2 linked regions of the Homo sapiens genome follow. The protein of the gene in region 2 purifies or fractionates together with the protein of the main gene of each other region. This does not show direct contact. Each region holds a gene or a part of one and is shown on either strand. Other genes may lie near its edges.

Evidence for each region. The genes of interacting proteins can lie anywhere in the genome.
Region 1: the proteins of PPP4R1 (region 2) and FASTKD5 purify together in Homo sapiens (affinity purification with mass spectrometry; one large-scale study listed by BioGRID and IntAct). This does not show direct contact.

Annotation. Positions count from the first base shown.
Region 1 is NC_000020.11:3,153,217-3,156,869, forward strand, and holds part of FASTKD5 (FAST kinase domain-containing protein 5, mitochondrial), read right to left. Parts: intron 1-3,653. UniProt on the Homo sapiens protein: Plays an important role in the processing of non-canonical mitochondrial mRNA precursors.
Region 2 is NC_000018.10:9,583,421-9,587,073, reverse strand, and holds part of PPP4R1 (serine/threonine-protein phosphatase 4 regulatory subunit 1), read left to right. Parts: intron 1-2,245; coding exon 2,246-2,353; intron 2,354-2,493; coding exon 2,494-2,559; intron 2,560-3,653. UniProt on the Homo sapiens protein: Regulatory subunit of serine/threonine-protein phosphatase 4. May play a role in regulation of cell division in renal glomeruli. The PPP4C-PPP4R1 PP4 complex may play a role in dephosphorylation and regulation of HDAC3.

The DNA of each region.
Region 1 (3,653 bases), on a different chromosome or scaffold from region 2:
TAAAAGAACCATCTCCTAGAACATCAATGTTTGGTGCAGCTCCAGTGTTTTGAATTCATGTGACACTTTTTGATTTGTAAAAACACAGGCTAAGATCCAAGATGGAAATAACCAGAGCTATGCCTTAGGGCCTCCTCTGTGCCAAGGCTTAGAGCCTTGTAAAGCTGCTTTATCTGCATTAGTTCCCATCCTTATAACATCTCTGTAATGTAAGTTTATAATCCCCATATTACTGATGAGAAAGAGACCACAAGATTAAGAAACCTGCCAAAAGTTACACAGCCAAGGGATTGAGTGGAGCCTAATATTAAAGACTGTCTGACTCTTCAGCCCACATTATTGGTGTACTAGAGAGACAAGAATGGATGTCAGAAAACAGGTTCGGGGGGCAGTACGGGGTGGGATGGCTGAACAATCTATGGTCTTCTAGGATTTCCAGGTGCCAGGGAGCTGGAGGGTTAGAACTAGGTAAGCTTGAAAGTCCCTTCCACCTCTAACAGTCTACGATTCTATCACTACGGTTTATACTGCAAGTTGAGTATCCCTTGTCCAAAATGCTTGAGACCAGAAGTGTTTCAGATTTTAAACTTTTTCAGTTTTTGGACTATGTGCTTTATACTGACCAGTGAGCATTCCAAATTCAAAAATCCAAAATCTGAAATACTCCAATCATTTTTTTTTCCTTTGAGTATCATGTTGGTGCTCAAAAAGTTTCAGATTTTGGAGCATTTTGCATTTTGGAGTTTCAGGTTTGGAATGCTCAACCTGTACTTTAAAAAAGAACAAAGAGAAGACCTCAAAGGCTGAAATCTACATGAGGCAAAGAGTTCGCAGGATGCTCCAGGATCAAAGTAAGGAGAGCTACCACAATTGAAGACCTGAAAGTTGGCAGTAGAGATATGGGATCCAGAAACTAGGGTTCAATACAGAGAAGCAAAGGGAAATCCCAGGAAAAAGGTGAAGGAAGATCCCAGGACAAGAGCTGTGAACAGACATAAAGAGCAACCAGCTCATGCTGGACGACATAGACAGTACCCAGGAGAGGAGAATCATACTTCTACCGGATAATCCGGGCATGAACAAGAGATAAGGATACAAAAAGCCATGCTAATAAAAACAGTAACAAAAATTATTAATGCCAGGGAAGACAAAAAAGTTATACAAGATAGAATATGTTACCACAGGCAGGATGCAATGGCCCATTCCTGTAATCATAGTACTCTGGGAGGCCAAAGTGAGAAGATCACTTGAGGCCGGGAGTTTGAGACCAGCCTGGGCAATGTAGTGAGACCCCCACCTCTACAAAATATTTAGAAATTAGCCAAGCCTGGTGGCACACACCTGTGGTCCTAGCTACTCAGGAGGTAGAAGTGGGAAGGTTGCTTGAGCCCAAAAAGTTAAGGCTGCAGTGAGCTGTGATCCTGCTATGGCAGGGTGACAGAGAGAGACCCTATCTCAAAAAATAAATAAATAAATAAAAAGAGTAAAGAAAATATTAGTATATCATACTCCCTATTCAGTTGAGAATAATACTAACATAATTTTATTAATATAAATCTTGATATTAGCCTAACCAAAAATTATGAGCAAACTATATTGGGAGGATAAAGTGAGTAAGAGGAGGAGTAGGGGGAGGTTGATGATACAAGAGACCTAGAGCCTCAAAGTCCATAATAAAGAAGTACAATTGGACAGGTGTGGTGGCTCACAACTGTAATCCCAATATTTTGGGAGGCTGAGGCAGGAGGATCACTTGAACCCAGGAGGCAGAGGTTGCAGTGAACCAAGATCGTGCCACTGCACTCCAGCCTGGGCGACAGAGCAAGACACAGTCTCAAAAAAAAAAAAAAAAAAAAGAAAAGAAAAGAAAAGAAAAAATAAATATAGTGATGGCCAGGATCAGTGAGTGGCTCACACCTGTAATCCCAGCACTTTGGGAAGCTGAGGTGGGCGGATTGCTTTAGGCCAGGAGTTCTAGACCAGCCTGGGTAACATGGTGAAACCCTGTCTCTACTAAAAATACAAAAAGTAGGCTGGGCACAGCGGCTCAAGTCTGTAATCCCAGCACTTTGGAAGGCTGAGGCAGGAGGATCACCTGAGGTCAGGAGTTTGAGACCAGCCTGGCCAACGTGGCGAAACCACGTCTCTCCTAAAAATACAAAAAATTAGCCAGGCATGGTGGCAGGCACCTGTAATCTCAGCTACTCAGAAGGCCGAGGCAGGAGAATCACTTGAACCCGCGAGGCAGAGGTTGTGGTGAGGCGAGGTCGCACCACTGCACTCCAGTCTGGGCAACAGAGCGAAACTCCATCTCAAAAAAAAAAAGTGGGTCGGGAGAGGAAACTATTATTTAGTGTTACAAGCTCTACTGAACTATTTGACTGTTTAAACCATGTACATGTACAATTTTGACAAAAATTAAATTAAAAAATCCATGTATTATGAAGATATTATGGTATTGTTCAAGATAATGAATGGAGAAAGTAGCTTAATAGATAAGGAAAATGTTGAAAAGTTATTTTTAGTGCAAGCACTTTCTACTACCTAAGAACTTCTTTAAAGATGTTCAATAACAGAAATGATAACAAAATAAGGAATCTTAGAGGCATGAAGAGCCAACCTACAAATGGTAAACAGTGGCTACTTACTCTTTTCACTATGCAACATTTACAGTAACTCTATAGAAACTGTATCTACATACACAGGTCTGAAACAGAGGACTTCAGAAGTTGGTCTTGAGTACTGTGGAGAAGGAAAGAAAAACAAGGAAGATACAGAAGCAGCAGAGAAGAACAGTAGGGAGAAAAGACACTGCAAAGAAGCAGCAGTCAGGATGACCAGATAGCGAAAACATACCTGAGAAGGTTAGTTCCTCCTTACTCAAAGACTCTCAGAAAATCCATAGGAAAGCTGGAAAGAGAACACTATGAGATGCTCAGTCAATTAACTTCTGACTCTTTTTTTTTTTTTTTTTTTTGAGACAGAGTCTTGCTCTGTTGCCCAGGCTGGAGTGCAGTGGCGTGATCTCAGCTCACTGCAACCTCTGCATCCCGGGTTTAAGTAATTCTCCTGCCTCAGCCTCCCAAGTAGCTGAGACTAAAGGCTCACGCCAACATGCCCACCTAATTTTTTTGTATTTTTTGGTAGAGACGGGGTTTTGCCATGTTGGTCAGGCTGGTCTCAAACTCCTGGCCTCAAGTGATCCACCTGCCTTGGCCTCCCAAAGTACTGAGTACAGGCAGGAGCCACCACGCCCGGCCTGACTCTTTCAATAAAGGTCAAAGATACCTGATATGATTTCACAAAACTCCTTTCCTAGTTTAAGTGCCCCAAGTATACCTTTCTCCCCTTTAGGGGTCCTAACGAAACAGAGTAGAGCCTCAGACACTCCTGGACCCTGTCAGTTCCAAAAGGCAATGCCCAAACCTCCCTGAATGATGTGATTTCACAGGACTGAAGAATCTTACCTTTCTCCCTTCCACATACCGGTCTGAGCAGAGCCGAATAGCTTCATTTTAAACTAGAGTCTAGAAGTTAGAGGAGGGGGGCCAGGCAGAGGAAGGAGCGATGCTAACTGTAGACTGAGTATAAGACACCTTAAACACATACAATTTACCACTTACCAGATCTGATCCCTCAATTCTAACACTTTT
Region 2 (3,653 bases):
CAGGTATGGTCTTTGTGGGAAGGATGGTCAGGCAAGTACATTTCCCAGGATATATGACATCAGTGATGGTTATCAGAAGAATATACAGATTGTTAAGTCATTACGCACATCATAAAGTCAAATGTAATAGGAAGTTTCTGGGTTTTTTTTTGACATGGTTTGCAAATATTCTGATTACTTGAAGGCCATGATAGGGCATGAATTAGTATAGAGTAGTATCTGTTGTGATTCACATCTGGTTCCTGAGTTCGGATAGTAGTAATTCTCATGGTAAATTAGAAAAGTGATAAATTCGTCTGGAAATTTATTCATATCTATTTGGATAGTAAGAGTTCACTCCTTAAGCCTAAAATAATATGGTTGCGTCTTTGTTGATATTTTTTAATAATCACACTATATTTAGTGCTTCTGGATCATCAGTAATGGGATGAATTAGATGATCTCTCTAGTCTCTTTCCCTTGAAGAATTTCTTGAATCTATTATTTTTAGATACTCAGTTACCAGTTAATAATAAATTTACTTTTTCAGTAATGTTTTTACTGAAGTGAACCTTACATGACATAAAATCATTTTAGTGTTAGTGGCATTTAATATGTTCACAAAGTTGTATAACCACCACTTCTTCCTAGTTCCAAAACATCATTATTTCTTTTTTCACTTTAGGATTTTTGCAATGAAGGAAATCAGTTTTGGGCTTGGCCTAATTTTTGGTTTATATTGAGCCGTTTAACTTGCTGTATTATAATTCTCGATGCAATGTAAAATTAGTAAAACATTACAATAAAAAATTTAAAAACTATATCCAGTGCTAGTAGGAGTCTTATGATTCTCTTACAGTTGTGTTTGTTTTTTGGTCATGTTTTATATTCCATGGCTCCCATATTTTCTCTATCTTAATAGATAGAGAAATAATAATTATTTCTTAATAAAAATTAATTTCTTAATAAAAATAATTCATTTTTAAATAAATTTAGTTATGCTACATCAGTGATATACAGCATAACTTTGGATTGTTAACTAGAGCATGGAGATGCTTATTCAAAAAACAAAACTGGTTTTGGGATTTAGGAGATGTAGGCGTTATCTCTAGTTCTGATGATGGTGGGATTTTCATGGGGATAGTGTTGAATCTGTAGATCAATTTGGAGACAATTGCCAGTTTCACAGTCTATGAACATGGTAGATCTATTTATTTAGGTCTTTGATTTATATCTTTAATCTTTTGTAGTTTTCAGCAGAAAGTTCTTGTGTGTATTTTGTTCGATTTCATATTTTTTAAAAGTACTTCTGTGAGTGATACTGTTCTTAAATGTTTCCAGTTCATTGTTCATTGCTAATTTGTAGAAATACAATAGATTTTTATATTCTAATTTATAGCCTACAACCTTCCTAAACATACTTATTCTGGTGGCTTCTTTGTAGATTCCTTCTGATTTTCTGTGTAGACAACCATGTCGTATTTGAATAGAGAGAATTTTCTTTCTTTGCAATCTGTATCTCTTTTACTTCTTTATTTTGTCCTGTTTGTACAGTCTAGCAATTGATACAATTGATAAATGACAACAGGCTATCCCATTTCTTTCTGTATTAACTGTGGGAACAATGTATCTAAATAGAGGGCCAGTTTTCAAATAAAGTTAATCCTCACTTTGCCTCCTATTGTGTTAACTGAAACATGCCTATATCAGAACTGTGTTCATGCTTTCCCTGGAACTGAAGCTTTGCAAAACCAGGACATGGTTCTGATATGTATGAGCTTTAGTTCACAGGGTGCTTTGCAAGGCGAGGACTGAATTTTTTCTTAGCAATACAGATATGCTAAATCTAGATCTTTCCTGGGGATAGTTTTCCCTTTGAACAGTCACCAATTTTTTAAATTGGGAAAATGTAGGTTTTTGTTTGTTTGTTTGTTTTGCTTTTAAAATTACCAGGCAAAATGATGAAGTAGTAGTAAGATGGAAACTGTGGACAAAAATGAAATTGTTAGGATTTTCTGTGGGTTTACTGGGCATGCAGTATTTATTGGTTGTTTTTATTGATTGTGGTTAATATCTGTCTTTGTTTCCTACTTAGATAAATAAGATGAAATTAATAATTGGCTATGAATGTTTTCTGTCATGTATATAGTATAATGATGCCATATCATATTTTATGTTTCCTCAAATTATATACTTTTATTATTTAATTTAACTGAAAGAGGCTTACTTGATATTTTCAGTGTGTGTTTGTTCTTACTTATTTTAGATAATGTGCAAAATGGCTCCCATGGTTGGGAAGGATATTACAGAGCGTCTTATCCTCCCTAGGTTTTGTGAGATGTGCTGCGATTGCAGAATGTTTCACGTTCGAAAGGTATTTTTTTGTCGTTTTTTTTCTGCTGTTTAAGAACATAGTTCTAGTGGTTAATGTACTGATACATGATATTTAAAAGATTATCTTAGAAGAACCTTATGTGTAATATTTTGAAATGTCAATGATGCTTTTGTTGTCAGGTCTGTGCTGCCAATTTTGGAGATATTTGCAGTGTAGTTGGCCAGCAAGCTACTGAAGAAATGTTGGTAAGTATTGCAGATATAAAGGAGTAAACAGTGTGTGTTACAAAGTAGTACATAAAGTTTGAAATGCACACATTTACTCCAAAGTTTTATTAACACAATTCCATGAATATAAACCAGAAAGATAATTTTGAATTTAGGAGTTTAAATATCTGTAATCTGGGCATTTGAATTATCTTTTTGATATTTATTAAAAATATGGATATGTTTCAGAACCATTGATCTGTTTTCACCTCTTCCATTTCTGTTAAGCAAATCAATTCTTACTTATTCAATTGAACCTTTAATTTTATTGCAACCCTCAAGAATGTTGATGACATATTAAATCTATAGCAAGTTAGTTTTAAATAGTACACAAGATGCCTATACTTGATGTATAAGTCACCATATCTAAAGAGTTTCTGAAGCCATCTCTTATGCAAAATAATTAAGTTCAGGGGCAAGCTCTTGTAAAACATTTAAGCTATGATTGTTGGGAGTGCTTTTGCATAGCCAGAAATATTGCATAAGACAATCCAGTATGCTTTTGCATAGCCAGAAATCCGACGGACCAAATTATCAGCACTTTTTATTAATTTATCAGTGATCTTTCATGTTGGGTAGGGTTTTGATTATCACTTTTGTGAAATAATACATTTCTGTCCGTTTTAAAGCAAACATAATTTTGACTCATAAGAAATAACTTAAAATTTAAGATATATTATTATATGTTATATATTTATAATTTAAGATACATTATTTTTTATACTTTTAGGAATAGACAGTAAATTAGATGTGATTTATTGAAAATTGTTGAGTATAAATACTAATAGATCCTACTTTTTAAGACAATCCAACATTTAAAACACTGAGGCTGGGCGTGGTGGCTCACACCTGTAATCCTAGCACTTTGGGAGGCCAAGGCAGGTGGATCACCTGAGGTCAGGAGTTCGAGACCAGCCTGGCCAACATGGTGAACCCTCATTTCTACTAAAAATACAAAAATTAGCTGGGCGTGGTGGCACACGTCTGTAATCCCAGCTACTTGGGAGGCTGAGGCAGGAGAATTGCTGGAACCCAGGAGGTGGAGTTTGCAGTGAGCCAAGATCGCACCACCT